4 separate regions of the Homo sapiens genome follow, and all the other regions are linked to region 1. The links come from fine-mapping of genetic effects on gene expression. A gene starts in region 1. Each other region holds a variant in brackets. All regions are shown on one strand. Distances are from middle to middle.

What was found.
Region 2: its variant is fine-mapped to the expression of FBF1 in whole blood (TOPMed, PIP above 0.99). The same link has a PIP of 0.9 or more in blood mononuclear cells.
Region 3: its variant is fine-mapped to the expression of FBF1 in lung (TOPMed, PIP above 0.99).
Region 4: its variant is fine-mapped to the expression of FBF1 in whole blood (TOPMed, PIP above 0.99).

The regions. Positions count from the first base shown.
Region 1 is chr17:75,936,239-75,944,338 of GRCh38, forward strand. It overlaps FBF1 (Fas binding factor 1), which reads right to left and starts at 4,804. Exons shown (of 30, transcript NM_001319193.2): 1 at 4,610-4,804; 2 at 1,909-1,994; 3 at 1,328-1,355. The coding sequence starts at 1,911. It overlaps ACOX1 (acyl-CoA oxidase 1), which reads right to left. Exons shown (of 14, transcript NM_004035.7): 14 at 5,269-8,100. RefSeq lists a silencer at 4,573-4,842 and an enhancer at 4,953-5,022.
Region 2 is chr17:75,761,751-75,769,850 of GRCh38, forward strand. GALK1 (galactokinase 1) reads right to left here and starts at 3,442. Exons shown (of 8, transcript NM_000154.2): 1 at 3,222-3,442; 2 at 2,147-2,336; 3 at 1,570-1,689; 4 at 1,264-1,399; 5 at 954-1,135. The coding sequence starts at 3,386. RefSeq lists enhancers at 2,457-2,666, 2,697-2,926 and silencers at 3,037-3,186, 3,417-3,606. The variant T/C (reference allele first, on the strand shown) is at 4,675.
Region 3 is chr17:75,885,450-75,893,549 of GRCh38, forward strand. TRIM65 (tripartite motif containing 65) reads right to left here. Exons shown (of 6, transcript NM_173547.4): 2 at 7,306-7,401; 3 at 6,818-7,051; 4 at 6,562-6,736; 5 at 6,364-6,429; 6 at 3,514-5,898. The coding sequence ends at 5,330. Among named protein-coding and RNA genes, the nearest start is that of TRIM65, 7.5 kb to the right of the region's middle. The variant A/G (reference allele first, on the strand shown) is at 3,321.
Region 4 is chr17:75,907,594-75,915,693 of GRCh38, forward strand. It overlaps FBF1 (Fas binding factor 1), which reads right to left. Exons shown (of 30, transcript NM_001319193.2): 24 at 7,424-7,546; 25 at 7,154-7,339; 26 at 6,529-6,705; 27 at 6,320-6,457; 28 at 6,109-6,226; 29 at 4,599-4,714; 30 at 1,981-3,213. The coding sequence ends at 3,130. Among named protein-coding and RNA genes, the nearest start is that of MRPL38, 6.8 kb to the left of the region's middle. RefSeq lists a silencer at 3,270-3,430 and an enhancer at 7,335-7,629. The variant T/G (reference allele first, on the strand shown) is at 4,250.

The DNA.
Region 1 (8,100 bases):
GGGTGGCAGAGTTTGTAGTGAGCCGAGATCGCACCACTGCACTCCAGCCTGGGCGACAGAGCGATACGCCGTCTCAAAAAACAACAAAAAGACCCCCCCCAAAATTAGCTGGGCCTGGTGGCGCATGCTTGTAATCCCAGCTACTGGAGAGGATGAGGCAGGAGAATTGCTTGAACCTGGGAGGCAGAGGTTGCAGTGAGCCGAGATCGCGCCACTGCATTCCAGCCTGGGTGACAGAGCAAGACGCCGTCTCAAAAACAAACAAACAAACAAAACCAAAACAAAAATTAGCCGGGCATGGTGACACATGCCTGTAATCCCAATTACTGGGGAGGCTGAGGCAGAAGAATTGCTTGAAACTGGGAGGCAGAGGTTGCAGTGACCTGAGATCACGCCATTGCACTCTACCCCGGGCAACAGAGCAAGACTCCGTCTTAAAAAAAAAAACAAAAAAACACAACTATCTGAAAGGATGATGGTGCAGATTTTCAGCAGAACCTATATTCTACCTGCCTACCATGACACACTGGCCAAAGATCAGTCTTCCAGACCCTGAACACAGCCCAGTGCAGCTCGCTGGGAAGAGTGCCCAAGATTTCTAGGCACATGGAGGCTACTTTCAGACAAGTAGGCTCCTTGTACCCTTCCATCTAAGACCCCCCAGAACTGGTCTGGATGTCCTCATCAATGGCCACTTTCTGATGGAGGCATGTGGGGGAACCTAAGTATGAATATCGAATTCGTTTCCCCACACCAGCTTTCCCACCCTGAATCCCAACCACATATTTCTGGATACAGAGCCCAAGGAGGAGGATTTTTTCCAAAACCTCATATCTTATTTACGTCTGAACTTCTCTGAGGACCAGTGAGGCAACATAAGGAAGACCAAGGCTGCCTACGGAATAATGGGAAGAACAGCAAGACTGATCAAAAACATTTTTTTTTTTTTTGAGACGGAGTCTCACTCTGTTGCCCAGGCTGGAGTGCAGTGGTGAGATCTCGGCTCACTGCAAGCTCCGCCTCCTGTGTTCACACCATTCTCCTGCCTCAGCCTCCCGAGTAGCTGGGACTACAGGCACCCGCCACCACGCCCGGCTAATTTTTTGTATTTTTAGCAGAGACGGGGTTTCATCGTGTTAGCCAGGATGGTCTCGATCTCCTGACCTCATGATCCACCCACCTCGGCCTCCCAAAGCGCTGGGATTACAGGTGTGAGCCACCGTGCCCGGCCCAAAAACATTTAAATAAACACATCTCATTGTTCCAGGACCAAAGGGGAAAAAGATATATATTTGGCTTAAGAGTAATGTTCCATCTCTCCACTCACCTTTACATCCTTTCTTGGTTTTTGGTGCCTAAAATGGGAAAAACAAATCACATCAAGAAAACCAAACAGTGAACACAGGTGGAAATTGGCAATGCAGAATGAATTGCGTTGCCTTTTGCCAAGTAACCAGAGGCAAGAGCACCAATGGCATTTAGAGATGTAAGTCCTTTATGTGTTCCTATAGTTTCTGAGAACGGACTCATTCAGAGCGTGGAAACAGCCCTGCTAACCAGCGATGGGTGCCAATGGGCGGGCAGGTCACTCCTTTCCCAGACACGACATGCAAACCCTCCCAGCCGAGATGTCATGTGACCGGAAATGTCTTCTATTCCGTGCCCCTGACTCCTCAATACCAGTGACAGACACTTAAAAACGCTTCCAGCTGGACACTCAGAGTCTCAGAAGAAACCTTGGTCGTCGAAAGTTTGGTATCAATGCCACCTCCTGTCACTCTTCTCCAGGGTCTCCATCCTGGTCCTTGCCGCCCAGCCCCCAGAGTGTTGCATGCAGTCAAGATCTTTGGGGATGCAGGATGGGAGGCATGTTCGCTTTCCATGCATCTTACTCTGAACTCTGCCTACCATCTCACGGCTCTCGGGGGTGCTCTCAGCTCCTTCACAGCACTGGCCAGCTCATCTGGATTCTGCCCACATCAGGCTCATACTCCCTAATGAAGAAAATTAAAGTGGTTGCTTAAAAATGATGTAGCTTTGGCTGGGCGCCATGGCTCACGCCTGTTAATCCCAGCACTTTCAGAGGCCAAGGCGGGGGGATCACCTGAGGTCAGGAATTCAAGACCAGCCTGGCCAACATGGTGAAACCCTGTCTCTACTAAAAACAAAAATTAGCTGGGTGTGGTGGTGTACATCTGTAATCCCGCAGCAGGAGGCTGAGGCAAGAGACTCGTTTGAACCGGGGAGGTGGAAGCTGCAGTGAGCCAAGACCGCGCCACTGCACTCCAACCTAGGCAACAGAGTGAGACTCCATCTCAAAAAAAAAAAAAAAAAAAAAAGAGACCGGGCGCGATGGCTCATGCCTGTAATCCCAAAACTCTTTGGGAGGCCGAGGCAGGTGGACTACCTGAGGTCAGGGGTTCGTGACCAGCTTGGCCAACATGGTAAAACCCCACCTCTACTAAAAAATACAAAAAATTAGCTGGGTGTGGTGGCAGGCACCTGTAATCCCAGCTACTTGGCAGGCTGAGGCAGGAGAATCGCTTGAACCCGCTAGACGGAGGTTGCAGTGAGCTGAGATCATGCTATGCATTCTAGCCTGGGCAACAGAGCAAGACTCCATCTCAAAAAAAAAAAAAGATGTAGGTTTAACAGCATGAATCCAAGGGTTATCAAAGTTCTCTCACTTTGCCCATTCAAGAGGTAAAGCCCATTTCCATAAATTAAAAATTCCTTATAGGGGATGCACTTCAGAAGAGGAGCAAAGTACTCTCAGGCTGGGCGCGGTGGCTCACACCTGTTATCCCAGCACTTTGGGAGGCTGAGGTGGGCAGATCATTTGAGGTCAGGAGTTCAAGACCAGCCTGACCAACATGGTGAAACCCCATTTCTACTAAAAATACAAAAATTAGCTGGGCATGGTGGCATATGCCTGTAATCTCAGCTACTCAGGAGGCTGAGGCAGGAGACTAGGTTGAACCTAGGAGGAGAAGGTTGCAGTGAGCCGAGATCGCCCCACTGCACTCCAGCCTGGGCAACATGCGAGACTCTGTCTCCAAAAAAAAAAAAAAAAAAAAAACGTGCTCTGGATAACTTAATGGGCTTTCTGAGGCTTTGAGATTACTTGAAAAAAGGGCAGTGGCCATCATCCCTTACCCTGAAAGCCGATGCAGCAAGTGGCAAGTACTCATTTCAGAAAGGAGGTGGGTGCCTGGCACCAAGGCTGAAACCCTTTCCCAGGCAACACCCATGACTACTTTCTAGGCAGCATTTAGCACAAAAGCAGGTATGAACTCTGGTTACTCTTTGATATTCTTTTTCTTTTTAAAATTTTTTTTTTCGAGACGGGGTCTCACTGTGTTACTCAGGTTGGTATTGAACTCTGGGGCTCAAGCAATCCTCCTGCGTTGGTCTTCCAAAGTGCTGGGATTACAGGTGTGAGCCACCACGTCCAGCAACACGATTTTCACTGACAGTGGAAATATTTCCCTTTACATAGGCAGTAAATCTGACCCATTGAGAACATTTTCCTCGGAATTAGCTGTCTCCCTCCCCCTCCTCCACTTTACCAAAACCCACCTACAGGATGTCCTGGAAGAAAGGAGTCAGAGGGGTCCTCTTTATGTCCCAAGTATTGGCCTGTCCTGTTATTGGAATGCAAGGGTTATCTGGGCTTACCTACAGAGCCCACCCTGAATACATGTGTTTTCTTTTTTTTCTTTTTTTAGACGGAGTCTTGCTCTGTTGCCCAGGATGGAGTGCAGTGGTGCGATCTTGGCTCACCACAACCTCAGCCTCCCGGGTTCAAGCGAATCTCCTGCCTCAGCCTCCCGAGTAGCTGGGAATACAGGCACATGCCACCATGCCCGGTTAATTTTTGTATTTTTAGTAGAGACGGGGTTTCACTGTTGGCCAGGAGGTCTCGAACTCCTGACCTCGTGATCTGCCCGTCTCGGCCTCCCAAAGTGCTAGGATTACAGGTGTGAGCCACCACGCCTGGCCTTCTTTCTTTTTTTTTTTTCCAGACAGGGTCTCGCTCTGTTGCCCAGGCTGGAGTGCAGTGGCACGATCACAGCTCTCATAGCTTACTGCAGCCTCGACCTCCTTGGGCTCAGGCGATCCTCCAATGTCAGCCTCCCTAGCAGCTGGGACCACAGGCACACGCCACCATGTGCGGCAAATTTTAAAATTTTTTTTGTAGAGACGGGGGTCTCCCTATGTTGCCCAGGGTCGTCCCAGACGCCTGGCCTCAAGTGATCCTCCCGCCTTGGCCTCCCAAAGTGTCGGGATTACAGGCGTGAGCCACCGTGCCCGGCCTTGTTTCTTTTTCTCTGCAATGGCGACTTCACGACCTACAAGTCCAAATGTGTCCCATAACACATCAAGGAACTTCTGGCATCTCCTATCGATCCTGTACGGGCTTCTCAGACTATGGGGATTTTCTAGGCTTGGTTTGCCAAGGCCAAAGGGCTACAGAGTAACCCCGTCCCCACATGTATTCAGCCGACTCCATGCCAGGCGTTTTACAGATCCCGAGACCACCCCTAAGCAAGACCCCTAGCCGGAGTCGCCCCTCCGTCCCGAGACTCCGCGCCCCTCAATGCGTCACCCTTCTGAGCGCCCGGCCTATCTGGCCCCGGAGCGCAGCCTGTAACGCTCTCAGCCCCGGAAGCCTCCTGTTACGCGCCGTGCCCCCGGAGGTGCGGCCGCTGGGACCAGCGCCGGCCCTGGCTCCATTCGGGTCGCCCAGCCCGGCCAGGACTGGCCTCCCGCTTCCAGCCGCTGCCGGCACCCTCAGCCGTCTGGCCTCCCGCGGAAAGGCGGGCGCGAGGCATCCTGGGAGTCGCAGTCGGCGGTCGACTCACCCGCCCTCACAGAGGAGGTGGGGACGCCATGAAGAACTACAGCTCCCAGGGAGCCGCGCGCGGCAGTTGGCGGGGCCGGGCTTCTGCCGGCGGCGGGCACGTTGCTAGGAGCTGCCCCAACGCCTCTCCGGGAAGAGGGCGCCAGGCTCAAAGGCCCTCTTGGGAACTGCCGGGAAGCTTAAAAGTTCCTCCTGCCCACTTCTGAGGGCTGACACGTGGCCGACGCGGAGGCGTGAGAAATGTGTTGATATTGGGAGGTTGACGGGTGAATCCACAAATTCACCGGTGTTTATTCCACACCCCAAAGCTTGAGGGAAGTGACTGACCTGTTTAATGATCCAATCAAAGCTGTATAGCCAGAATGAAACCCAATACTGTCGCCCCACAAAAAGATTAAGTCACATTTTTTCTAGTATGTGCTAATTATGAATTTTATTAAGGTTTATTCAATGTCACAGAGGAAAGAACGGTTTGTAGTTTTGCTTACCCGCAGTGCTGGCAGGTCACAGCTGTCCAACCATGATCCATTCACATGCTCTGGCCCCGTGCCCCTCGTCCTCCCACCCCTACCCCACAGGACACCATTAAGCCAGGGCTGGGTAACAACATATGCTCAATGCATCTTCTCAGGTGAGAACCAAACTCGAGCCACAACAGCAAAGGGGGAAAAAGGTAGCAAAGTAATTATGTGCTCCCAAGGCAGTCATTTAGTTGAATCCATAACTGGAAATAAAAAGGCATTTATGAAGTGTAGTCCGCAGTCTGAATGTGGAAGGTGGAAGATCACACATTTACTAAGAAACACTCAAAACATATTTTGGTTCAGAATTCTAAAAAATCCCGAATTTTCCATGATCTTCCCAAGACAACCAATGACCCACTTAAATTTAAGGCAAAAACACCCTTGAATCTAGGAATGTGCACATATGCAACAGCTAACATCTGGTAACTCTAATAATGTTCCTTATATGTTTCTGTGTTTACTATCATGAACCATAGGAAGAAGTACTGGAAAATTTAGTAAGTGTGGACAGTTAAAAACACTGGCCCGGCACGGTGGCTCACGCCTGTAATCCCAGCACTTTGGGAGGCCGAGGTGGGTGGATCACGAGGTCAGGAGTTCAAGACCAGCCTGGCCAACTTGGTGAAACCCCTGTCTCTACTAAAAATACAAAAAAACTAGACAGGCATGGTGGCAGGCGCTGTAATCCCAGCTTCTCAGGAGGCTGAGGCAGAGAATTGCTTGAACCCGGGAGGCAGAGGTTGCAGTGAGCCAAGATTTCGCCACTGCACTCTACCCTGGGTGAAAGAGCAAGACAACGTCTCAAAAAAAAAAAAAAAAAAAAAAGCAAAACCCCACCATCAATATTTTAAAATAAAAAGTCGTTTTAGTCAATTACAGTGTGACTTGTTCTAATCCTCCAAGAATGGAGTAGTAAAGAAACAGCAGAAATGACTTCCCTGCATTATTTCATGAAAATGATCAAAACCTTTATCTAAGTCAGAACATCAACAAGACTCTTGGTCTCAGGTCATCAGTTTCCTGGCACTCCTCCTCTCTCTAGCTGTAGTAGCAGCTACTGCTTGAAGACAACCTATATATCCCAGGCATACCCTCTACACGTATAAAAAGATGTGCAGGTGTTACAGACCACCTACACCTAATTCACTTCCTTTCTAATAAGATGGATGGAATAACTCGGAAAAGGGAAAGGAGGGATTTTGAGCCGCAGTTGTCTAAAGAATTATTGATTCACAGGGATCTCCAAGATCATGCATTTGAAGAGTTTTATTTCTCCACCCAAAGCCCTGCAGTGAAGAAAATCCAAGAATTAAGATGTAACATGTTGGCTGGGTGAGGTGGCTTGTGGCTTATGCCTGTAATCCCAGCACTTTGGGAAGTGTGGGGGGAGTGGGAGTGCAGATCACCTGGCCAACATGGTGAAACTCCATCTCTGCTCAAAATACAAAAATTAGCCGAGCGTGATGGCAGGTGCCTGTAATCCCAGCTACTCAGGAGGCTGAGGTGGGAGAATCGCTCGAACCCGGGAGGTGAAGATTGCAGTGAAGTCGAGATCGCACCATTGCATTCCCGCCTGGGAGACTCCATCTCAAAAAAAAAAAAAAAAAAATTAACATGTTGGCCCAGTGCAGTAGCTCACTCCTGTAATCCCAACCCTTTGGGAGGCCTGAGGTGGGAGGGTCACCTGAGGCTAGGAGTTCATGACGGGCCCAAGGCAACATAGCCATACCCTATTTCCAAAAATAAAAAAAAATAAAAAATTAGCCAGGTGTGGTGGTGTGCACCAGTAATCCCAGCTTCTCAGAGGAGGCCAAAGCAGGAGGATCACTTGAGCCCAGGAGTTGGTGGCCAAAGTGTGCTACAATCACACCACTGCATTCCAGCCTGGGTGAGAGTGAGACCCTCATGGGGTGGAAAAAAAAGATCTAACATGTTAACTTTAGGAACTATAAAATGCCTTCAGGTGTATGTGATCTGAAATTACAAGTGGTGACTTCTCAGAAAGCATATGAACACGGTGAATGTTGTAATGTTCTGAAGATAAGCTGATACTTAGTAGTGATATGTTCTAAAGACAAGAACATGAGGGCCCCAAAGCCTGTGTCATCAACTCTGCTTTGAGGTCACTAATTTTTAAATACAGAGCATAAAGTAGAACTCCAAACACTTGGGCAAGAAGAAAATCCATTGCAAATAGCCAACACATTTCTATTAAACCTCACATTTTCAATTTTGTATTTGGTTGAGAGTACTTTTTAAAAAAAGGCTTAAATCAATATTATCTAACACACACAAAAAATCTCATTAATTCTCCTCACTCTGGGCCAGATGCTGTGGCTCACACCTATAATCTCAGCACTTTGGGAGGCTGAGGCGAAATGATCGCTTGAGCCCAGGAGTCTGAGACCAGCCTGGGCAACATGGCAAAACCCCGTCTCTACAGAAAAAATAGAACAAATTAGCTGGGCATGGTGGCACGTGCCTGTCGTCCCAGCTACTCAGGAGACTGAGGAGGGAGGACCATTTGAACCCGGGAGGCAGAGGTCACAGTAAGCCAAGATCCCACCACTGCACTCCAGTCTGGGTGACAGTGATACCCTGTCTCAAAAAGATAAAAATAAAATTCCTACTCAGTAATTTTGGAGAAGACAAGGTTAAAATGTATCTTTGTACTTGTGAAAATGGCTTACAAAATTTTGAATCCAACAGACC
Region 2 (8,100 bases), 170 kb before region 1:
CTCACGCCTGTAATCCCAGCACTTTGGAAGGCTGAGGCGGGAGGATCACCTGAGGTCAGGCGTTTGAGACCAGCCTGGCCAACATGGTGAAACCCCAGTCTCTACTAGAACTATAAAAAATGTGCCAGGCGTAGTGGCGGGCGCCTGTAGTCCCAGCTACTCGGGAGGCTGAGGCAGGAGAATCACTTGAACCCGGGAGGCAGAGGTTACAGTGAGCTGAGATCGCACCATTGCACTCCAGCATGGGTGACAAGACCGAAACTCTGTGTCCAAAAAAAAAACACGGCAAATGGGCTGGGCGCAGTGGCTCATGCCTATAATCCCAACACTTTGGGAGGCCAAGGCAGGAGGACCACTTGAGGCCAGAGTTCAGGATCAGCCTGGGCAACACTGCAAGACCGTCTTTACAAAGATAAAAATTAGCCGGGCATGGTGGCACACCTGTAATCTCAGCTACTTGGAAGGCTGAGCTGGGAGGATCCCTTGAGCTCAAGAGTTCAAGTTTGCAGTAAGCTATGATCACACCACTACACTCCAGCTTGGGCAACAGAATGAGACCCTGCCTCTTAAAAAAAAGGGGGTGGGGGGGGAAAGTGATGATATATTACATATACTCAGCTTTGAAGACAGATGTGGAAAAATACTGAAAGGAAACGTGAAAATGTCAGCAGTGGCTATCTCTGGGTAGTGGCCTTATAGCTTATTATTTTCTACTTTGTACTTTTCTACATTTTCCACAATGGAAACATGATTTTTCTGATTAGATAAGACCATTTTAGGATTTCAAGCAGCCCTGCTGAGATTGGAACCCTGGGTGCGCAGTGTTTGAAGGGACTGGGGAGAGCATGGCAGAAGGCCCTGGAGATCGGGGTCCCAGGCAGGGTCAAGGCCACACTGAGGCGCCAGCAGGGAGCACAGCCGCCTCCAGGATAGAGCACCCTGGCAGTTCTCACCCTCTAGCTCTTCCAGTTGTACCTCCCGGAGGCTTTCCTTGCCCAGCGCCCGGGCCACTTCTTCACATTGGCGCCGCCGCACAGGGTACTCGCTGGAGGCCAGGGAGTGGCGGACATTAGAGTTGGTGATGAGCACGGCCAGCTTGGGGTCCGAGAGTGGCACCAGGCTGGTCTCCAAGGACCTGGGGTGGAGTTACAATGGGGGAGATGACGAGGCCAAGCGTGTGCTTGCTGCGCCAGGCAGTGGGCACACTCCCACCCAGGAGCTGCTGAGTGCAGGGCGGGAGGGGACGAGGGGAGCGAGCCCAACCTGCAGTCAATGAGCAGCGCGTGGCCTTTCTGTCCCATAAGTGAGATGAACTGGTCCATGATGCCACAGGGCATCCCTGCGAAGCTGTGCTCGGCCTGCTGACACACCTGGGCGCGGGCAGCTATTGTGCCCGAGTCTGCAGTACAGGGTGAGGTGGGGAGGCTAGGGCTGGTGGAAGCAGCAGTGGCTTCAATGACACTCCAGGGAGAGTCCCTGCCACCCCCTCCATAAGGCATAGTAGAAGCTGGGACCACCTGGAGACCTCAGGGAAGGAGGGCTGGGTCAGGGCTGGGGCCTAGCTGGTACCTGGACAGAGCTGCTGGAGGAAGGTGTACGTGGCCACTTCCAAGGATGCTGAGCTGGACAGGCCACCCCCCAGGGGCACTGAGCTGACCACCACTGCACTGAAGCCAGGGAGGGGGGCAGCTGCAGGGGAAAGAACAGGTGATGGTAAGAGGGGCTGCCTGGGAGGATGGCACAGGAAGGGCAGGTGTCCTGGCGGGAAGGGCAGCAACGGCCTAGCAGCTGTTTCTAGGGTGTGTGTCTCAATTGTCAGAAGCCACCAACCTGCTGGGCCAAGGGACCCACTGCCCTCCATTTTCCCACCCTCTGAGGTTGCTGGGACACTTCTAATTGTCCTCCTGGTTTAGGGCTCTGGAGGGAAAAAAGGCTGGGGTTCAAATCCTGGCTCCTCCAATCAGGTCACGGGAAACCCAGGGCAAGTTCCCGACCTTCTGGGGGCATCAGTTTCCTCATCTGTACAATGGGATGCTCCACTCTACAAGCCTTCCCCACAGTGTATCAGACAAATGAATGGGCTCTGTGGCTGTGAGGTGGCACTCCTAGTATCAGTGAGGACTTGGCTCAGGCCTGGGCCCCATACCTGGGTAGTACTGAATCACTCCCTTGACATAGTTGGCCCACCGAGGAGTCCCAGGCTCCAGCGAGCGCTGGGCTGTGGGCAGTGGAAACTGCAGCCGCTGGGGCTCATCGGCACCCTCAGAGGTGGTGAGGAGAGACACCAGCCCATCCTTGCGGGGGCTGCCCACCAGCACCGTCATGAGCTCCAGAGCCTGGCAGGAGAGACAAGCAGTACGTGAGGCTTCCGCCAGCTGGAGTAAGCCTCTCCAATGACACTGCCTCCAGCCGAGGTTCTGATGCCTCCACAGTCATCAGGTTCTGAACCTCCAGGTTCAGCGTCGCAGGGAAGATCCTGAGGGCCAGCTGACCTTGGGGGCTTGAGCCCTGCCCCCTTAGGTCTTCAGGGGCGGGGCGGCTGCAGCTGGAGCACAGACCTGGACTCTGCCCTGAGCTGTGGGGCAAGGGGGAGAGCTAGCCCAAAGGGAAAACAGATCACTGGAGCTCCAAAGCCTTTACATTTTGGGGTGGCTCTGGACATCCTGTACCTGTGCACTCCCCAAGCTGCAGATGGGGCGGAAAGCGCCCCCCGCTGAAAGCTGGGAGTCCTCACTCCCAAGTCGCAGCCCCGCCAAGAACCTGCTGTGTGACCTCCAGCAGTTCACTGGGCCTCTCTAGGCCTCAGTTTCCTCCTCTGTAAATTGAACGGGCTGGGCCAGAAGGCTACGTTCGCCCAGGTCTGCGGTTGGGGCCCCACGGTGGCCGGAGGCGCGGAGTGTCCCCTTCTGCGTGGCACACAGGGCCTCACAGTTTAAGGGGAACATGCTCCCAGGTTGAAGGCGAGGAGCCCCAGCCCCCAGAGGGCGGGCTTGAGCCAAGAGGCGGCCGCGCACCCTCTCCCGGCCACTTCCTCGCTTCCTCCCTTCCAACGTGGGGAACAGCCTGTCCCGGGGACTCTTCCGTGCACCGGTGCTCCAGGCGCAGCTGCCCGCCCCACATCTCCCGCGGGAAGAACTCGCCCCCAGCGTCCCCGAGGCCCGCCCTCCTCGGCGGCCGGGACAGGCGGCGGCGGGCTAGGGGCTCCCCGTGCAGCCCCTCACCATAGGCAGCACCAGGCCCTGGTTGTAGTCCGTGTGTTCCCCGATGAGGTTGACGCGGCCCGGCGCTGACACGGCCAGCTCGGGCTCGGCCCCGAACTCCTCCCGGAAGGCTCGCCGGGCCTCGGCCAGCAGCTCCGCGACCTGGGGCTGTCTCAAAGCAGCCATGACGCGCGCCTGCAGCTCTGCACAGCTGCTCCGGCACAGCCCCGTCGGCGCGGGATGCTCGGGCGGGGCCCCGCGCGGGGGTGCGCACATTCCCGCCAGCCCCGCCCCGCGCCCGGACGCCCCGCCCCCAGACCTCAGCCGGTTCCGCCCCCACCCGCAACTCCCGTGGGAATCCAGCTGCTGGGTGGTGGGTGGCAGGGGCTAATGGTGCCGGGTGGGATACAGCGCCCCCGATGGTGTCCTTCCCTCTGGACTTCGGGAAGAACCAATGAGCACTCACTAGAGTGAGAATAGCCCTGAGTGGCACTTGGCATGACCAGGATTTCTGAGCTGCCCTTCCCTGGCGCTGGTGACTTTCTATGTGCCTCACCACCCACCACCACCCACACAGCCAGAGCAATGGAGCTGGCACCCGGTTGACCTGGGATTCCCAAAGGGATCCCCTAGGTCCCCAGGGCCAGCAGCTGTGAGAGGTCATCAGCCTCTGATCACCGGTCTCCAAGAGGGTGACCTGACACTCACTGTAAGTAGAGATAAAGACAGACAAGTTTGGGCCGGGCGCAGTGGCTCACGCCTGTAATCCCAGCACTTTGGGAGGCCGAGGTGTGCAGATCACCTGAGGTCGGGAGTTGGAGACCAGCCTGACCAACATGGAGAAACCCCATCTCTACTAAAAAATACAAAATTAGCTGGGCATGGTGGCTCATGCCTGTAATCCCAGCTACTCGGGAGGCTGAGGCAGGAGAATCACTTGAACCTGGGAGGCGGAGGTTTCGGTGAGCTGAGATCACACCATTGCACTCCAGCCTGGGCAACAAGAGCAAAACTCTGTCTCAAAAAAAAAAAAGACAAGTTTGGTGGTGACCAGAGAGTCAATTTTACAAGCTCCTTTTCTAGGTAATACGCAACAGCTCCTAGCAATGGAGAATTGGACTAGGGTGGCGGTGGCCAGCAGTGGGCCCAGCCCCTCCCTTAAGGACCTGCCACAGCTGTCCAGGTAGGTTGTGCTGTTGGCCCCAGCAGGCACTACTTCAGCCCAGAAGCCCTTGTCTCAGAGGCGTGGCCTTGTTCCCAGTCAGGCACTCTTCTCTTGCTATCCTGCATCCTAAACCTGCTGGCCGGCCCCAACTGCTGCCTTGATACCTGTCCACAGCTGCCCACCCTACATGGAACCTTGAAACTGAAAGACTGAAATGTAAGCAGCTTGCTTGGGGTTAGGGTGGGAGTAGTGTGGGGAGTTATGGCCAGGGATTTAGCTTGGGGCCTGCTCAGGGGTGTGCCCAAAGAG[T/C]GGGGAACTGCATTCCAAGGGCAATTCTGAAAACTCTTAGAAGAAAACATAGGGGTACAGTTTTGTGACATTGGTTAGGAAATGTTTATTTGGTTTCTGTTTTTGAGACGGAGTTTCGCTCTCGTTGTCCAAGCTGGAGTGCAATGGCGTGATCTCAGCTTACTGCAACCTCTGCCTCCCGGGTTCAAGCGATTCTCCTGCCTCAGCCTCCGGAGTAGCTGGGATTACAGGCACGTGCCACCATGCCCGGCTAATTTTTTGTATTTTTAGTGGAGACTGGGGTTTCACCAGGTTAGCCAGGCTGGTCTCAAACTCCTGACCTCAGGTGATCCACCCACCTTGGCCTCCCAAAGTGCTGGGATTACAGGCGTTAGCCACCACACCTAGTCATGTTTTTTTATTTTTATTTATTTACGTATTTATTTATTTTAGACAGATCTTGCTCTGTTACCCAGGCTGGAGTGCAGTGGCGCGATCTTGGCTCACTGCAACCTCCGCCTCCCAGGTTCAAGCGATTCTCCTGCCTCAGCCTCCCCAGTAACTGGGATTACAGGCACCCTCCACCATGCCTGGATAATTTTTGTAAAAGCAGGGTTTCACCATGTTGGCCAGGCTGCTCTTGAACTCCTGACCTCAAGTGATTTGCCTGCCTCAGCCTCCCAAAGTGCTGGGATACAGGTGTGAGCCAATGCGGCCAGGCAATGGTTTTTTAGATATGACATCAAAAGCACAAGTGACAACAGAAAAATAAACTGTACTTCATCAAAGTGAAATATTTTTCTGCAACAAAGAACTGTCACGCGTGTCCGTGTGAACAGACCACCAAACAGGCTTTGTGTGAGCAACAAGGCTGTTTATTTCACCTGGGTGCAGGCGGGCTGAGTCTGAAAAGAGTAAGCAAAGGGTGGTGGGATTATCATTAGTTCTTATAGGTTTTGGGATAGGTGGTGGAGTTAGGAGCAATGTTTTGCGGGCAGGGATGGATCTCACAAAGTACATTCTCAAGGGTGGGGAGAATTACAAAGAACCTTCTTAAGGGTGGGGGAGATTACAAAGTACATTGATCAGTTAGGTTGGGGCAGGAACAAATCACAGTGGTGGAATGTCATCAGTTAAGGCTATTTTCACTTCTTTTGTGGATATTCAGTTGCTTCAGGCCATCTGGATGTATACGTGCAGGTCACGGGGGCTATGATGGCTTAGCTTGGGCTCAGAGGCCTGACAAGAACATTGTCAAGAAAGTGAAAAGACAACTCACAGAATGGAAGAAAGTACTTGCAAATCATGTATATCTCAGGGGCTTGGAGTTTGAGACCAACTTGGGCAACGTGGGAAGACCTCACTGCTACAAAAAAAAAAAAAAAAATTAGCCAGGTTGGGTGGCACACACCTGTGGTCCCAGCTACTCAGAAGGTGAGAGACCCTGTGTCAAAGAAGAAAAAAAAAAAGCAAAAGATTTCAAGAGACATTTTTCCAAATAATATAAATACAAATGGCCAATAAGCACATGAAAAGATGCTCAAATGTCAGATGTGGTGGTTCATGCCTGTGATCCCAGACTTTGGGAGACCGAGGTAGGCGGATCACTTGAGAGCAGGAGTTCAAGACCAGACCAGCCTGGCCAACATGGTGAAACCCCATCTCTACTGAAAACACAAAAATTAGCCAGGCATGGTGGCGCACATGTGTAATGCCAGCTTACTCGGGAGGCTGAGACACAAGAATCACTTGAACCCGGGGGGTGGAGTTTGCAGTGAACCGAGATCTCGTCACTGCACTCCAGCCTAGGTGACATAGTGAGACTTGGTCTCGGGAAAAAAAAACAAGTGATGTATCTATACAATAGAAATATTAATCCATAAAAAGAAATGAAGTACTGATACGTGTAACAACATGGATGGAGCCTTCAAGAAAAAAATTAGCTGGGCGTGGTGGCGGGCACCTGTAGTCCCAGCTACTCGGGAGGCTGAGGCAGGAGAATGGCGTGAACCTGGGAGGCGGAGCTTGCAGTGAGCAGAGATCGTGCCACTGCACTCCAGCCCAGGTGACAGCGCAAAACTCCGTCTCAAAAAAAAAAAAAAAAGAATGAACTTTGAAAATATTATGGTGAGTGAAGGAAGCCAGTCACACAAGACCACCTGTTGTATATCCAGAATCGGCAAATCTCTACAGATGGAAAGTTAATTAGCGGTTGCTTAGGCCTGAGGGAATAGCAGGGTCAGAGCCAAAGGATGGCAGGTTTCTCTGTGGTAAGGAAAATGTTCTAAAATGGACTGTGGTGATGGTTGCACATGCCTGTGAATATCCTAAACTGTTGAATTTTATGTTTTAAATGGGTGAATTATATGGTATGTATTATATCTCAATAAAGCTGTTAAGAAAAGAATGGGGCCCAGGTGTGGTGGCTCACGCCTGTAATCCCAACACTGGGAGGCTGAGGTGGGCAAATCGCTTGAGACCAGGAGTTCAAGACCAGCCTGGGCAACAAAGGGAGACCTCATCTCTCCAAAAAAATCAAAAATTAGCCGGGCACGGTGGCTCATGCATGTAATCCCAGCACTTTGGGAGGCCGAGGCGGGTGGATCACTTGAGGTCAGGAGTTCAAGACCAGCCCGGCCAACATAGTGAAACCCCATCTTTACTAAAAAATAGAAAAATTAGCCCGGTGTGGTGGTACAAGCCTGTAATCCCAGCTACTCAGGAGACTGAGGCAGGAGAATCGCTTGAACCCAGGGGGCGGAGGTTGCGGTGAGCCGAGATCACACCACTGCATTCCAGCCTGGACAACAGACTGAGACTCCGTCTCAAAAAAAAAAAAAAAATCAAAAATTAGTCAGGCTTGGTGGTGTGTGCCTGTGGTCCCGACTACTTGGGAGGCTGAGGCAGGAGGATCACCTGAGCCCAGAGGTTGAAGGTGCAGTGAGCCGAGATCACGCCACTGCACTCCAGCCCAAGCAATTCCAGATGTCATCGGATGACCTGCTCCTTTTGAGCACACTTCAGTAAAGCATTTTTTGGCACAGCCAACACCAAACAAATCATACCATGAGTGGCCCTTGGGCTGGTTGAAATGGAATGAAACTCACAAACCATACCTCCCTACAAGGGCCCATTCTATCAGGGCAGAGGTGAGCGAAGCAGCCCCTTCTCTGCATGCCTTTTACTCACCTCACCTCTGACACCCAACAGTGCTGAGCCCTCATCTCCACTCTTCCTATTATATGATCTCAGGTAAATGAAGTGACCTTTCTGGGCCTCAGTTTCTTATGTGTAAAATGGGGCTAGAGATTGCTCCCAGACATGCTGTTGTAAAAGGAACTGAATGAGATCATCTTCATAAAGTGCCCAGCCCAGCAGCTGGCACTTGGTACGCACAGAATAAATGTTTGCTATTCTTATCAGTTGTCCATTAATTCAACAGGCATT
Region 3 (8,100 bases), 51 kb before region 1:
TATTTTTGGTAGAGAGGTGTGTTACCACATTTCCTAGGGAGGTTTGCAGCCTCCCGAAGTGCTGCGATTGCAGGCGGGAGCCACCGCGCCCAGCCAGCTTGTTTGTGCTCATGTTTCTGGAGACTGCAGATGCTTGATTACTTCTCCTTTGTGTTGAATTCCCCGTTTCCTGGATCCCAGACCTCCCTTTTCCCTTCACTGATTTACTTCTTCATTTTTGAAAAGTCTGCCCTCTGGGTGCTTCCTGAGGATGGAGGCTGACGTGTCTGCAAGTGTCTCTGTTCGGGCTTCATCCCTGACTGACAGTTTGGCTGGGCATGGAATCCTAGGATGGAAATCCAGTCCCCCAGGATCTCAAGGGCTGGCTCCATTGTCTTCTACCTTCCAGCTTGATGCTACTCAAAGCCTCAGTTCCAGGCAGCGTCCTGCTCCTATCCTGCCTGGAAAGGCACATCCCCTTGTTCTCTTTACCCTTCACCTCTGATATGGTTTGGCTGTGTCCCCACCCAAATCTTATCTTGAATCCCAGCTCCCATGATCCCCACGTGTCGTGGGAGGGACTTGGTGGGAGGTAATTGAATCATGGGGGCTGGTTTTTCCCATGCTGTTCTCATGGTAATGAATAAGTCTCACGAGATCTGATGGTTTCATAAAGGGCAGTTCGCCTGCACACGCTTTCCTTGCCTGCCTGCCACCATATGAGACATGCCTTTGCTCCTCCTTCGCTTTCTACCATGATTGTGAGGCCTCCCCAGGCATGTGAAACTGTGAGTCCATTAAACCTCTTTCCTGGCTAGGCGCGGTGGCTCACACCTGTAATCCCAGCACTTTGGGAGGCCGAGGCGGGCGGATCACGAGGTCAGGAGATCGAGACCATCCTGGCTAACGTGGTGAAACCCCGTCTCTACTAAAAATACAAAAAACTAGCCGGGCGTGGTGGCGGGCACCTGTAGTCCCAGCTACTCAGGAGGCTGAGGCAGGAGAATGGCGTGAACCCAGGAGGTGGAGCTTGCAGTGAGCCGAGATTGTGCCACTGAACTCTAGCCTGGGTGACAGAGCGAGACTCCGTTTCAAAAAAAAAAAAAAAAAAAAACCAAAAACGTCTTTCCTTTATAAATTGCCCAGTCTCAGGTATGTCTTTATTAGCGCACAAAAACAGACTAATACACCTCTCTGGCCTCCAATCCAACTCCCTCCAATCCAGCTGGCCTGTGAGGTCCCTGTCTTTCACAACCTCTCCTGCCCTTGTTCTGTCTCTGGGTGACCATCCACCTGATTGTGCACAACTGAAGCCCAGAATCTGTAAGGGGGTCTGGTGGGTAGGCCAGACATGCTGGAAACACCCACAAGCTAATCAAACACGTCCCCTTTCCAAATGTCACATCCCAACTCTGTGCTGCCTTTTCCCTCGATACCAGCGTGCGTTTTCCTGGAGAGACGGTGGAGAGTTCTATCAGAATCAGTTCGGCTGGCTGGGCATGGATCACTTGAAGCTAGGAGTTCAGGACCAGCCTGGGCAACACAGTGAGAACCCCATTCTTGACAAGAAATTTAAAAATTAGCTGGGCGAGGTGGTATGCGACTGTAGTTCCAGCTACTCAGGAGGCTGAGGCAGGAGGAGGAAGGATCACTTGAGCCCGGGAGGCAGAGGTTGCATCCTGCCCTTGCACTCCAGCCAGGGTGACAGAGTGAGGCCCCATCTCTTAAAAAAAAAAAAAAAAAAAAGAAGAGAAAAAGCAAAAAGAAAAAAAAAGCAATGGCTCACACCTGCAATCCCAGGTGTGGATCCCTTTGGGAGGCTGAGGCAGGCAGATGACATGGGTCAGGAGTTTGAGACCAGCCTGGCCAAACTGGTGAAACCATGACTCTACTAAAAATACAAAAATTAGCTGGGTGTGGTGGTGGGCGCCTATAATCCAAGCTACTCGGGAGGCTGAGGCAGGAGAATCACTTGAATGTGGAAGGCAGGGGTTGCACTGAGCTGAGATTGCTCCACTGCACTCCAGCCTGGGCAACAGAGTGCAACCCTGTCTCAAAAACAAAACAAATTAGCTGGGCATGGTGGCGGGTGCCTGTAGTCCTAGCTACTCTGGGGGCTGAGACAGGAGAATGGCATGAACCCAGGAGGCAGAGGTTGCAGTGAGCCAAGACTGTACCACCGCACTCTAGCCTGGGTGACAGAGTGAGACTCCGTCTCAAAAAAAAAAAAAAAAAAGAAAAAAAGATAAAGGGTGGGAGTCTCTGAGCCTATGTTGACTTGGGAGGCTGTCCATTAGGAAGAAAAGAGGGGGGCCGGACATGGCGACTCACGCCTGTAATCCCAGCACTTTGGGAGGCCCAGGCGGGTGGATCACGAGGTCAAGAGTTTGAGACCAATCTGACCAACATGGTGAAACCCCATCTCTACTAAAAATACAAAAATTACGCCGGGCGTGGTGGCTCACGCCTGTAATCCCAGCACTTTGAGAGGCCAAGGTGGGTGGATCACAAGGTCAGGAGATCGAGATCATCCTGGCTAACACGGTGAAACCCTGTCTCTACTAAAAAATACAAAAAGTTAGCTGGGCGTGGTGGCAGGTGCCTGTAGTCCCAGCTACTTGGGAGGCTGAGGCAGGAGAATGGTGTGAACCCAGGAGGCAGAGCTTGCAGTGAGCCGAGATTGAGCCACTGCACTCCAGCCTGGGCAACAGAGTGAGACTCTGTCTCAAAAAATATATAAATAAATAAATAAATAAATAAATAAATAAATAAATATTAGTCGGGTGTGGTGGTGTGCGCTTATAATCCCAGCTACTCGGGAGGCTGAGGCAGGAAGATCGCTTGAACCCGGGAGGCGGAGCTTGCAGTGAGCTGAGATCACGCTATTGTACTCCAGCCTGGGCGACAGAGCAAGACTCTGTCTCAAAAAAAAAAAAGAAAGAAAGAAAAAGGGGTTATTATTAATAATATAGAACACGCTCGCAGAATATAGAAAGAACCACCACCCAATAGGAAGATGAATTTCACATAATAAATGACCCCAAACACCTCCCACCTCAGAAGCAGAAAGGGGCCAACTCTTCCTCTCTCTGCCCCTTTCAGAGCGCGGCTCAGCCCGTTGGGTGCTTCTGCTGCAGCCTTGGATTAGGAGGGACTATGAGGTGGGGACAGCAATGACAGCCATCTGGCCAGGCCAATACATCCTGCCTGGCTGGGCTTTCAGCTCCCACCATTGCCCCTAGCTGGTCAGCAAGGTCCTGCCCGCCTCCTGGCTGTGGGGCTGCACATGTCAGATTCCCTTCCCATGTCTGGGGAGCTCCCACCTGAGGATCTTGCTGGAA[A/G]GTCCTTGCCTGGGCTGTGCCAATCCAAGGCCCTGCCCTGCTCTTGAACAAACAGCCACAGGCTAGGAGCAGGGCCACAAGATGGAGGCTGCAATGACGGCAGTGATCGGGGTGGGGTCGTCGTGGGAGGTTTTTTTTTTTTACAAATATAAAAACATTATATATATTGGGGGTATGTATATTACACGTATTATCCTTTTAAAAAGTTTTATTGTGAAATATTTATCCATGAGTACATATAACATAGATGTCCAGTTTTTCAAGTTACAAAAAGCAGACAGCCCTCCCTTTTTTTTTTTTTTTTTGAGACAGAGTCTCGCTCTGTCACCCAGGCTGTAGTCCAGTGGTGCAATCTCAGCTCACTGCAACCTCACCTCCTGGGTTCAAGCGATTCTTCTGCCTCAGCCTCCCCAGTAGCTGGGATTACAGGCGCACACCACCATGCCCGGCTAATTTTTGTATTTTTAGTAGAGACGGGGTTTTGCCTTGTTGGCCAGGCTGGTCTCGAACTCCTGACCTTGTGATCCGCCTGCCTCGGCCTCCCAAAGTGCTGGGATTACAAGCGTGAGCCACTGCGCCTGGCCAAAAGCAGACACCCTTGGAACCACCTCCCAGAACAAGAAGTGGAACATTTCAAGTAAAAAAAATTACACCTGCCCTATGACCCAGCAACCCCACTTCCGGAAATACAAGCAAAATCATGCCCAGGGGTCTTCGTGGCAGCTTGCTCTGCAATGGCAAACACCACACCAAACCAGGAGGAGCTAGCCTGTGCCGACACCTGCACACACGGCTGCCCCAAAGTCCCACACCCAGGGGTGGGATGCTGGAGATGAAGGTCCTGCCAGTGTCACGTGCTGCTTAGTGACAGGGTTGAGGGGCCTTAGTCGGCTTGACTCAAGGTGGCCTCACTGTGGCCTTTTGTATAAAAAAATCTTCAAGTGCTCATTGTTCCCTGAGTGACTCACTTGAGGTAACAGCCTACATACATGACCATAAATGTGGCCAAACATCCCACTCAGAAATATTCATCATAAGCCAGGCGTGGTGGCATACACCTGTAATCCCAGCTACTCAGGAGGCTGAGGTAGGAGAATCCCATGAGCCCATGACCGCACCCCTGCACACCAGCCTGGGTGACAGATGGAGATCCTGTCTCAAAAAAAACACATCAATGTTTGTATAGCTAAAAAGAAAGAAATTTAAATGTCCAATAATGGATAAATAAACTTGATAGTCATTAGAATGACTACAGCAATCAGTGAAAATTTTCAATCATGTGAAAAATGCTTATGTTAAGTCAGGAAACTTCAGAAAACACTGTAATCTGAGCTACTCTGGAGGCTGAGGTGGGAGGATCCTTTGAGCTCAGGAGCTCGAGGCTGCAGTGAGCCATGATTGTGCCACTGTACTCCAGCCTGAGTGACAGAGCAAGACCATCTCCTAAAAACACAAAAATGTTTAAATGCAGAAAACAAAATTGTTTGTAGAATACAATTATAAGGATGCACAAAATAAAAAGACTACAAGACAGGACGGACGTCTCTCCAAATGTTACAAAAAATTAAAGAGAGCTGCAGGCGGGGAGGAGGGAGGAATCTGTCTCCCCCTGGGACTACTCTGGCTCACCGCCCCTCCCTGACTGCTCCTTTGGCCCTTATCATCTCCAGAGGCAAGTTCAGGTAGATCTGAATTTTGTCACACACGCTGTCCTGTAAGCCCAGAAGTCCCCTGGGCACTGCTCTCGCCTCCCAGGCCCAGACAGTACCTAGAACTGGGTTCTCTCTGGGGCAAGGGCATCCCATTTATCCCCCTCCTAGACTGTGTCCCCTTCAAAAAGGCTGCAACAGTGAACTCTGCGTTTATGCTCACCTCCCCCAACCTCCCATCTCTTTCTGAGTTAACAGAGAGGCCAACAGCTGGTCCTCCAGTCCCCAAGCTGAAGCTGGGCAGCTCTTGGGCACATAGGCATGGTGGCAGCTATGCCAGGGCTCCATCCCATGCCTTCTTCAGCTGAGCACCTCTTCCTGGGGCCCCAGAGGGAACACAGCCCCTGGCTGATGGCACAGGGTCAGGGTCCTACCCTCGAGGAGCCAGAAGACGGGGGTGAGGGGCTGGTTGAAGAGGGCATGGAAGGTGTACAGGGGCTGGGTCTGGGGCTCCAGGCTGTAGAAGGTGAGGCAGCCTGAGGCCAGGTCCAAATCCATGCCCAGGAGCCGCCCTGACACCCCTGGGAGGCGCTGGGCTTCCCCGTTGTGCCAGGCCTGGAGGCTGTCCTCCTGGACGCAGAGCCCCCAGGAGCAGGGTCCCCGGCCAATGTTGTCTGTGTGGGGCCCCAGCCTGCACCGTGGCAGTTGCGGGTAGGAGACGCCCAGTGTCACCGAGTGGTCTGACGCGCGCACCTCCCAGTAGTGGTGCCCGGCCTGGAAGCTCTGGGCACATTGCACCTGCCAGAGCTCAAAGCTGCCGGGCCCGCCTGGGCCCCGGGACTGACGACAGTGCTTCACCTGCTGGTCCTGGCGCGACAGATAGAAGTGACGGTTGGCGCTGACTGGATCAAAGGTCAGATTGCGATAATCTGTTGGGGAAAGGAGGACAGCAGTGGGCTGGGGGAAGACAGCACAACCAGATCTCCATTTATCCGCTGCTAAACCTCCGCCAGGCACGCTGAGCACCGGCCGTCACCATAGCACTTAATCCTCGCCACGACCTCGCAGGCGGAATCCTCTATCAGCCCCGTTCACAGCTGAGAAAACTGGGGCTCTGAGAGCCATTAACTCAGTGTTAAGTGGAAGAATTACGGGTCTGTGCCCCAGACTCTGTCCTTCAACGCACACTGGCTGCGTCTGCTTCAGGGTGGATGTGCACGAGGTGTGCAGCGGGTGGGACCAGGCTCAGATGTCCCGGCAGGACAGTCAAAACAAGTGCCCCCCTCACTCACACGTGCATACGAACATGCACACACACACGTGCTCACAGCACACACAGGCACTTCCTTGCACACGCACACACAGGGGCACACATACACGAACGGCCTCCTTACTCTGCCAGAGTTTCCTCCTCAGTGGACAAACTGTGCTTGGGACCGGTGCCAGGGGACCTGGGGCCTCTAGGGGGCAAAGCAGTGTTAAGGGAATGGTTGGAGAGGTCACGATGTGTGGGCCCTGACCCGCCTCCACCCCCCCAGCGGGAGGGGCAGCTGGACCCAGGACAGCAGGGGGAGGCCTGGGGTCAGTCTTACCCACGGGGGCTAAGTCCACAGGCTTGGCTGGTGCCCCAGGGTGGCTCCCCTCTTCCAAGAGGAGGCCACACAGCCGGCTTAGCAACTGCTTCAGGTCACCCAGCTGTTGGTCTTCATCCCACTGCAGAGGGGTCAGTGGCCCAAGAGGCCCTGGGGGCTGGAGGAGCTGCGATTCCTGAGCCCCAGGGAGAACAAGTAAGCCTGGGCCTGAGGGGCAGGGAAGCAAGTCCGCCACCTATGCCCTGAGCCCTCGCACCTGCAGGAAGGTCTGCTCATCCACCTGCTCCAGGAGCTCCCGGATCCTGCAGCCATGGCGAGCCACAGCCTCCAAATGGACCCGCAGCCGCTGCTCCTCGTCTCGAGCCTGTGCCAGCGCCTGCGTCTTGGCCACCTCGATGCTCCTCAGTGCTGTCGTGTGCTGTATTTCCAGGGCCTGTAGCAGGCTGCTGAACTTGCCGGAGACCCAGGAGGCCAAGATGCAGGCCGAGTTCTGGGCGGGAACAGGAGGGGCTTCAGGGTGGCCAGGGCCCTGTGCCATACCAAGGGAGGCTAGGGCCAGGGCTGCCTGCTGGGCTGAGGGTCAGGGATGTGGGGAGGCAGGGTCCCGGGAACCTCCCCAGGACCCCTGTGCCCAGCTCCCTGCTCAGCCCCGCTCCCTGCTGCCTGGTGTTCCAGGGACCAGCTGGTGGCCGCCCCAGGATGCAGTGTGAGGCCATGGTGGGCGGGCAGGCACAGGCCTCGTACCTGGATCTGGCTGCTTTGCTTGCGCAGCTCTAGTAGCTGGCCTTCGGCCTGGGTGGCCTGCTGCTGGGTAACCTCCAGGCTGGCTCTCAGCTGGGCCTGTGGTGCGGGCCCACGGGACAAGCAACAAGAGAAGGCCAGGATTGGCTGTGATGTCCTTTCTCAGACAACCAACCATGCCTGCAGACACCAGGCAGCCCCTCCCCACGCCACCCCAGGCCAGCCTCCAGAGCACCGGCCTCGGTCTAACCCAGGGAGAGTTGGGGCCGTGCCCCGGGGGGGTCCAGACAAAGTCCTTCCTAATCTGCAGCAGGGTGGTGCCTGAGCAGAGCGGAAGCCTTGGGCTCAGGACCCAACTTCCATTCCCATTTCTACCTCTTGCATGCTGAGCAAGCTGAGGCCAAGCACCTGTCCTCTCTGGGCCTAACCCCCCACCCATCAATACAGGAAAGCGATAATGCTGGCTCAGGAGGCCTCGCAGGGAGGACCCCAAACACTAAAGCCGTTGGTCCCTGTCTCACTGCAGAGGGGTCAGTGGCCCAGGAGGCCCTGGGGCTTGAGAAGCTGACTGCAGGGACCTCCCAAAGCACCAAAGCTGTCTGACAAGTGGGCAGTTACTTGCTGGATAAACTAGATTCTTCTGGGGATCCGGCCAGTCCCTGGCCCTAGTTTTGAGACTGAGAGGGGAGGAAGGGACCCCTATTCGGTTGCGCTCCCTGAGTCCCTTGGGAATCAAAACACCGTGCTCTCATGAGAGCAGGACAAACCACGCAGGTCCCAGGGGCTCCATTCCCAGCA
Region 4 (8,100 bases), 29 kb before region 1:
TGCAAGCTCCGCTTCCCAGGTTCATGCCATTTTCCTGCCTCAGCCTCCCAAGTAGCTGGGACTACAGGCGCCCGCCACCACGCCCGGCTAATTTTTTGTATTTTTAGTAGAGACGGGGTTTCACCGTGTTAGCCAGGATGGTCTCGATCTCCTGACCTCGTGATCCGCCCGCCTCGGCCTCCCAAAGTGCTGGGATTACAGGCGTGAGCCACTGCGCCCGGCACCTGCACCAGTATGTTTTACCCATTACATTCCACCAATATTTCTTTTTCTTTTTTTTCTTTTTTTTTTTTTTTAGACAAAATCTCACTCTGTCACCCAGGCTGAAGGGCAGTGACACAATCTCGGCTCACTGCAACCTCTCCCTCCTGGGTTCAAGCGATTCTCCTGCCTCAGCCTCCCAAGTAGCTGGGACTACAGGCCACACGCCACCACGCCCGGCTAATTTTTGTATTTTCAGTAGAGACGGGGTTTCACCACGTTGGTCAGGCTGGTCTCGAACTCCTGACCTCAGGTAATCCACCCACCTTGGCCTGCCAAAATGCTGGGATTACAGACGTGAGCCACCGCGCCCGGCCGCAATATTTCTCTCTCTAAAAGGAACTGAATGAAGCACTTGGGTTATGATCTTGTTTACAATTTTGAAGGAAAAAAAGAGCTGCAGCTACACAACACTCATTTCTGTACTCAGCCCTCTCCAGTGTCTGTGGCCTGGGAGAAGGCTGAAGGGGATAATTAGGATGCCTGCCACACCCTCATGGCGGTGACAGGAATGCTGAGTGCTTACACTGAGTAAAGTGCCATTATAACTGAGTGCCTGTGGAATGTCTCTGCTTGGCTGTCCCCCCGGCACTGTATACTCATCTGTGACACCACCCAGTCACCCAAGCCAGGAACCTGGGCGTCCTCAACACGTCTTCCTTTCTGATCCTCCATGACTGGCACTAGGCCCGAGGGCCACTTTTCTGTGGGCCCTCCCTGCCATGCCCGGTAGTCTTGCCCACAGTCCCTCCCCTGCACCATTGCCAGCTGCCTTCCCACACATCCTCTGTCCCACTCTTGCCCCCTCTGGTCCGGTCCCCACCCTGCAGACACAATGGGTTTTCTTTTGTTGTTGTTTTTTTTTTGAGACGGAGTCTTGCTCTCTCGCCTAGGCTGGAGTGCAGTGGTGCAATCTCGGCTCTCTGCAACCTGTGCCTCCCGGGTTCAAGCGATCCTCCTGCCTCAGCCTCCTAAGTAGCTGGGATTACAGGCACACACCACCATGCCCAGCTAGTTTTTTTGTATTTTTAGTAGAAACAGAGTTTCACCATGTTGGCCAGGCTGGTTTTGAACTCCTGATTTCAAGTGATCCACCCACCTTGGCCTCCCAAAGTGTTAGGACTACAGGCGTGAACCACCGTGCCTGGCCAATGGGTTTTCTAAAATACAAATATGGTTCAACCTTGTTTAAAATCTTCTAGTGAAGACCTGAAAATTTGCCCTCAGACAAATTTGCCCTGAAAAGTTGCACGTCTTTAACAAGATATGCAAAGCCCTCTCATTCTAACCTCTTCTCCCTACTCTGTCTTGAAGGCCATGCTCTCCCCCTGTGGGTCTCCCAGCACCGCCCTCCCCGATGTATGTGCTTGATCACCTGCAGGTCCTGCAGGTGGCTGCCTAGATACCAGCTGCCCCTGGGCCGACGTGCCCATCCTTAGACCCCCCCAGCTCTTTGCACAGGTCTGCCTCAGGACTGGTTGAGTCTCTTTTGTGGAGAATCAAATTTGAGACTTAACCAAGGCTTCCAATGGGGCATGTGATACTTCCCTCCTCAGTGTTGGTACCAGCCCCAGAAGCGCCTGAAAAGATCTTCCTCCCACACCAGCACCTACCAGGAGTGTAGCCTGCTCCTCTGGGAGGTAGGAGAGCGGGGTGGCTGACAGCGTGGAGCTTGGGGATTGGCCAGAGCAGAACTCAAATCCAGGCGCAGCTACTCACTGTCATTTCAGGCAGGTTATTTAATCTCCCCGGGCCTCAGTTTCTGCATGTTTGAAGCAGGGCTAATAGTACCCTTCTCCTGGCTGTGGTCCAGCTGCCAGGTGCCACCGCAGACCGCAGGTGCTGGAGGGGAGAGGCACGTGGCCAGAGGCGCCTGGTCCTGACCAATCTTATAGGCTGATCTTTTAATAAGAACATCTGCCTGTTCTTTGGGACTTGTCCAGCAAATAACAGGAAACATTTTCTAAGAAATAAGTATAAACTCCGATGAGCCATGGCAAAAGCAGTTTTTTTAAGCTTAGTCAAGTTGAAGCAGCGGGAGTGGAGGAGGATCAGAGAAACCTCTGTAGTTGTGATTGGTTCCTTGTCGCCTCCACTGCGTACCCGCTGAGCTGGGCTTTGGGCAGGTGAGCAGCACAGAGGCTTCCCTCCTCGTCCCTCCCCACACCCCACCATCGCCACAGCTCCCTCCGCCGCCGGTGGGGCACCCAGATGGGGAGGAAGCTGAGGAGGCCACTGTTCACCCAAACTGGTTGGTCCTTCGGGCAATGCTGGGAATAGGGTGGGGGCTCTGGGCAAGCCCAGGAGGAGGAGGGCCTGGCTGAGTTCCAGGAACATCTCACACCACAAGGGAGGATCTAGCTGGTGCCCTCCCTGTACTGTCAGGAGGCCAGAGGGCCCTTCTCCAGCTCATCAGGGAGGGAACTGCTCTGGCAGGGAGTAGGGAAGGCTGTTTGTGGCATCCCTCAAGAAAGCTCCTGCCTCAGAAGAGGCCCAGGCAAAAAGAGCCCACAACAGTCTACCTGTGGAGCAGGGGGAGCCCACAGAGCCCAGGGGGAGCCCACAGAGCCCAGTGAGAGCTGGGGGTCCTTGCTGCCAACTCAGACCCTCAGATCCAAGCCAATGGCTTTGGGGCAGGGCAGCCAAAGCCATGGTAAGATAGCCTACACCACAGAGCCCCAGAGGCAGGGGCTGCCCCGGGCTGGCACATTTGGAAAGGATGCACTTGCACCCTGTCCACGGAAGAGCTGTCATCAGGCCTCAAGCATCTCAGAATCCTCCCCAGGCACTGCCTCCATGGAGGCAGCCGGAGGAACAGGACAGTTCTGGGGTCCGAACCCTCTGTTGGGGAATCGGCTGGGGTCCCACTCAGGCTGAATGAGATGTCAAATTGTAGGACCCTTTCTTCAGGGTCTCCAGGAAGAACTGTTCATTCTCCAAGAAGTCACGGTCCTGCAAGGCAGGTTTGGATGGGCGGTCACCTTCCCTGAGCTGAGAGGGAGGTGGAGCCCTGGATGCTAGCTGAGCCAGCCGTCACTGAGGCCCCTCCCCACATCGTCCCTGACTCTGCCTGGCTCTGGGAGTCAGCAGGGGCCATGAAAGAGCCCAGGTATGGAGTGAGACAGACCACAGTCTCAATCCTGGCAAGGTTACTTGTTTGCTGTGGAACTTACGAGCACATGACTTCATGTCTCTAAGCCTCAGTTTCCTTGTCTGTAAACATTCCTTGTAGCCCTTCCTTGCAGGGCTGTGTGAGGGTAAAAGCTTAAAAAATACACAAAGCAGGCCAGGCACAGTGGCTCATGCCTGTAATCCTAGCTAATCCGCAGGCCAAGGGGGTAGGATCACTTGAGCCCAGGACTTTGAGACCAGCCGAGGCAACATCGTGAGACCCCATTTCTAAATATAAATAAATAAGTAAAATATAAACAAAGCCTTCGGCATTGAGGTTGGCACACAGGAAATGCTCCATAATGACAACTGTTATCATTATAGTTTTGTTTTGTTTAGTTTGAGACAAGTGCCTTGCTCTGTCACCCAAGCTGAAGTGCAGTGGTGTGAACACACCTGTAGCCTCGACCAGCTGGGCTCAAGCAATCCTCCCACCTCAGCCTCCCAAGTAGCTGGGACTATAGATATGCCCCACCATGCCCAGCTAATTTTTAAATTTTTAATATTTATTTTTTTGAGACAGAGTCTCGCTCTGTTGCCTGGAGTGCAGTGGCACCGTTGTGGCTCACTGCAGCCTCGACCTCCCGGGCTTAAGTGATCCTCTTACCTCAGCCTCCGGAGTAGCTGGGAGTACAGGTGTATGCCACCACGCTCAGCTATTTTTTTGTGGAGACGAGGTCTCACTATGTTGCCCAAGCTGGCCACGAACTCCTGGGCTCAAGTAATCCTCCCACCATAGCCTCCCAAAGTGCTGGGATTACAGGTGTGAGCCACGCACCTGGTCCTCTTTTTTTAGTTTTTCATTTTGTAGAGACGG[T/G]GTCTCAACATATTGCCCAGGCTGGTCTCAAACTCCTGGGCTCAAGTGATCCTCCTGCTTCAACCTCCCAAAGTGTTGGGATTACAGGTGTGAGCCACTGTGCCCAGCCTGTTATCATTATTGCTATAGGTTATCATGAGGTTTAACTGAGATGACATATGCAAATTGCTTTGCACAGAACCTGGCCTAGTGTGGAAGTCTGAGCATTGGCTCACTAAGCAAACTGCAGTTTTACTCCCCAGGAGCTGGGGTCACCCCTCCCCAGGGCTACCATGTGCTCCTCCCTGCCTCTGCCCTGAGCTGGAAGGACTCGTGAACACAAGGATCCCCAAGGCCAGGAGAGACTCACCTGCTCTGCCATGTGCCTCAGCAGTGCCAGCCTGGCATGGAGGTGCAAGGGGCTGGGGTCCAGGCCAGTTGGCGGCTGGCTGCACCAACGGGTGGTGGGAGCAGGAGGCATGAGGGCTGAAAAGGCCAAGGAGGAAGTCAGGGACCAAAGTGTTGGTGGAAATACCGGGCGGTCACAGCTTGTTCCTGCAGAGCTGCTCCCCCCGCCAGTGGGTGGACCCTGGCCATATACTCAGGGTGCAATGGCACTAACTCTCAGAAGCCTCTGGCAAATGCATACCTGCTCCTACCTGGAAAGACCATTTATAGGAATTTATTCCAGTGAAATAATCAGGCAAAGGTACAAACACATATGTAGGAAGATGTCCACTGGGTAGTCTTTCTCTTTAAGACAACAAATCACTCAGCACAGAGCAGCCTCACAGTGGAAAACTGTGCTGATTGGGAATTGACTAAATGTTTAATGACTGATCTGAAAACCTGTTCCACGTGTACATTACTGAGTAAAAAAAGTAAAGTTATTGAAAAACACATACAATCCTAATTTTGTTTTTAAAAACATGTACCAGGCTGGGCGCGTTGGCTCATGCCTGTAATCCCAGCACTTTGGGAGGCCAAGGCGGGTGGATCACCTGAGGTCAGGAGTTCAAGACCAGCCCGGCCAACATGGCAAAACCCTATCTCTGCTAAAAATACAGAATTAGCCAGGCATGGTAGCACATGCCTGTAATCGCAGCTACTTGGGAGGCTGAGGTAAGAGAATCGCGTGAACTCAGGAGGTGGAGGTTGCACTAAGCCGAGATCATGCCACTGCACTCCAGCCTGGGTGACAAGAGTGAAACTCCATCTCAAAAAAGAAAAGAAAAAAAAAGTACCAGAGTGGAACATTATGCACCAAAATGTTAAAAGTGAAAAGTGGTTCTCTCAAGACTCAGGAGTGGCGTTGAGGGTGACTTTTTTTTTTTTTTTTTTTTTTTAAACGGAGTCTTGCTCTGTCCCCTAGGCTGGAGTGCAGTGGCACAATCTCGGCTTACTGCAACCTCCACTTCTCGGGTTCGAGTGACTCTCCTGCCTCAGCCTCCTGAGTAGCTGGGATTACGGGCACCTGCCACCACACCCGGCTAATTTTGTATTTTTAGCAGAGACGGGGTTTCATTATGTTGGCCAGGCTGGTCTTGAACTCCTGACCTCAGATGATCCGCCTGCCTCGGCTGCCGAAAGTGCTGAGATTATAGGCGTGAGCCACCACGCCCAGCCTGACAATGACTTTTTTTATTTCCTTTTTTTTTCCTGAGTCCAGAGTTACAAAAAGGTGACATTTTTCATAATAGTGTTCCTCTATTTCTGATTTATCTAAAATTAACACACATTATTTGTGTAAAAAAGAAATAAGGCGACTATAAAACCCAGCTGGCCGCCTTAACTGGAGCGGCTGGAGGAGGGCCTGCCCACTCCTAGCACTGCCCCTGCCCAGTCCTGAGCCGCCGGCCCTTCCTTCTGGAGCCACTCACCACTCTGGCTGGAGGCTGCAGGGCCCTGGGCCCTGGGGAACAGACCCACGAGGCTAGAGGGCAGGTCCTGTCGTGCGCGGTCCAGTTGCAGCCTCTGCTGGGCCAGACTCAGATGCTCCTGTCCCCGTTCCCCCAGAAAGAAGGACTCAGCTGTGAGGTGGGAGGCTGGGGGTGCCGGGGGCAGGGGCGCCATACACTCAGGGAGCCTTGCCTGGTGCATGTGCTGCTCCTGCTTCCGCAGCCGCTCCTGCTGTTGCTGCACCGCCTGCAACCGGGCCTGCTGCTCTGCCTGCACCTGCTGGGCCTCGCGCAATGCCCGCTCCCCCTCCTCGTACTTCTCGGAGGCCACCTGCAGGGAGGCCGCCTGGGTCAGGGCTGCCTGGGCTCAGATGCGCCCACGCCCATGTGCCCGAGCAGCACCTTGCTCATGCTCTCCACCTCCTCGGCGCGGAGCTTGACACGCAGGGCGGTGGCGTTGATCCTCTCCTTCTCCAGCCGCAGCTCCTGCCGCTCCTGCTCCAGGGCTGCTCTCTCCGCTGCCAGCTGCTTCTCCTCGGCCCGGAGCTCGCTGGCCCTGATCTTCAGCTCAGCCTGCTCCTGGAGACAGCGGAGGCCCTGCTGCATTCTCCTCCCAGGAATTGCGCTGCACTCTGTGCAGGACTCTAGGGTCCCCTCTGCCCACCCTGCCCCTGGGAGGAGGTGGTGGAGCCAGGGGCTTCCAGGGAGAGCCAGAGAAGCCTGGGGCCAAGCCGGAGTGCTGCCCTCACAAGCCACGTGACTGTGGCAGGCTCAACTCTGAAGTTCGGTTTCCTCATTTCTAAATGACCAAAGTCATGGGAACATGAGGATCAAATAAAATGTGTATAATGCACCTGGGACAATACGAGGAAGATGTTAGCATGATGATGCGATTACTGTTTTAATCCCTATGCTCTTGTGACATTAGTGCTACACTCTCCTTTCCTAAGACTGGAAGCGGATGTGTCCAGATGGAGGGGCGCAGGCAACCCTGGGCCCTCCACTGTCCGGAGGCTCTGGGCCCTACCTTGGCCAGGCTGATGAGGGTGCCCTCCCGCTGGGTGTCCACCTGCAATGCCCGCTCGGCCTCGCGCTCGGCCCGCTCCTTACTCAGCTTTTGCTGCGCGGAGAACTCCGCCCACTCGGCAGCCAGGCGCCGCCGCTCCTCCCCGCACTTGAGCATGACAGACTTCTGCTCCTCCAGCAAGGCGCTCTGGGATGTGGGGGTGAAGGCACGGGGTGAGTGTCCCTGGGCATAATGGCAGGGGCAGGGGCTGAGTGCGGTGGCTTGACTCACCTTGGCCCGTTCCAGCTCCGCCCTTTCCATGGCCATCTGCTGGGCCGTGACCTTCCTTTGCTCCTCTAGGGCGCGCTGCATGGACTCCGCCTTGGACTGCTCGGCAGTCACCCGCCAGCGTTCCTGTAGGGCCCAGGGCAGGACTGAGAGCGTGGTTCCCGCCCTGAGGATCACGCCTGGCCACTCCCTGAGAAGCTGCATGAACCCACCAGTGTCTCCCACACTATGCCACTGACACGTCCTTCCCAAAGAGGCACAAAATGAGGGGTGCCTGGGAGGCACTGCCAGGGCCCAGCCCGCACGATTCTGCCCAAGAGAAGGACCCAGCAGGTGCCCTCCCAACCCTCAGGTCTCCAACAGCACCAAGGCTAGCAGCTTGGGAGGGCCAAAGAGCAGCAACATCCCTGCCGCTGAATCGCCAGCTACGCACTCTGCCTGTCCTCACCCATCAGCCAAGCAGGCTAAGCACAGGGTGGCTTAATGCTGTGCTGTGGGCCCAGCCACACACAGCACAAGGCGAGAGCTTCACTGTGCCTGACCCCAGGCAGATGCTTAACACAGTTACCAAATGAAGAGGCGAATCAAAATGCTTCACAACATAAAAGCATCTCTATCTACGTTGACATGGCTACAGGATAGATATCAGGTCAGCAGTGGACATCTCTGACTAGTGGGAT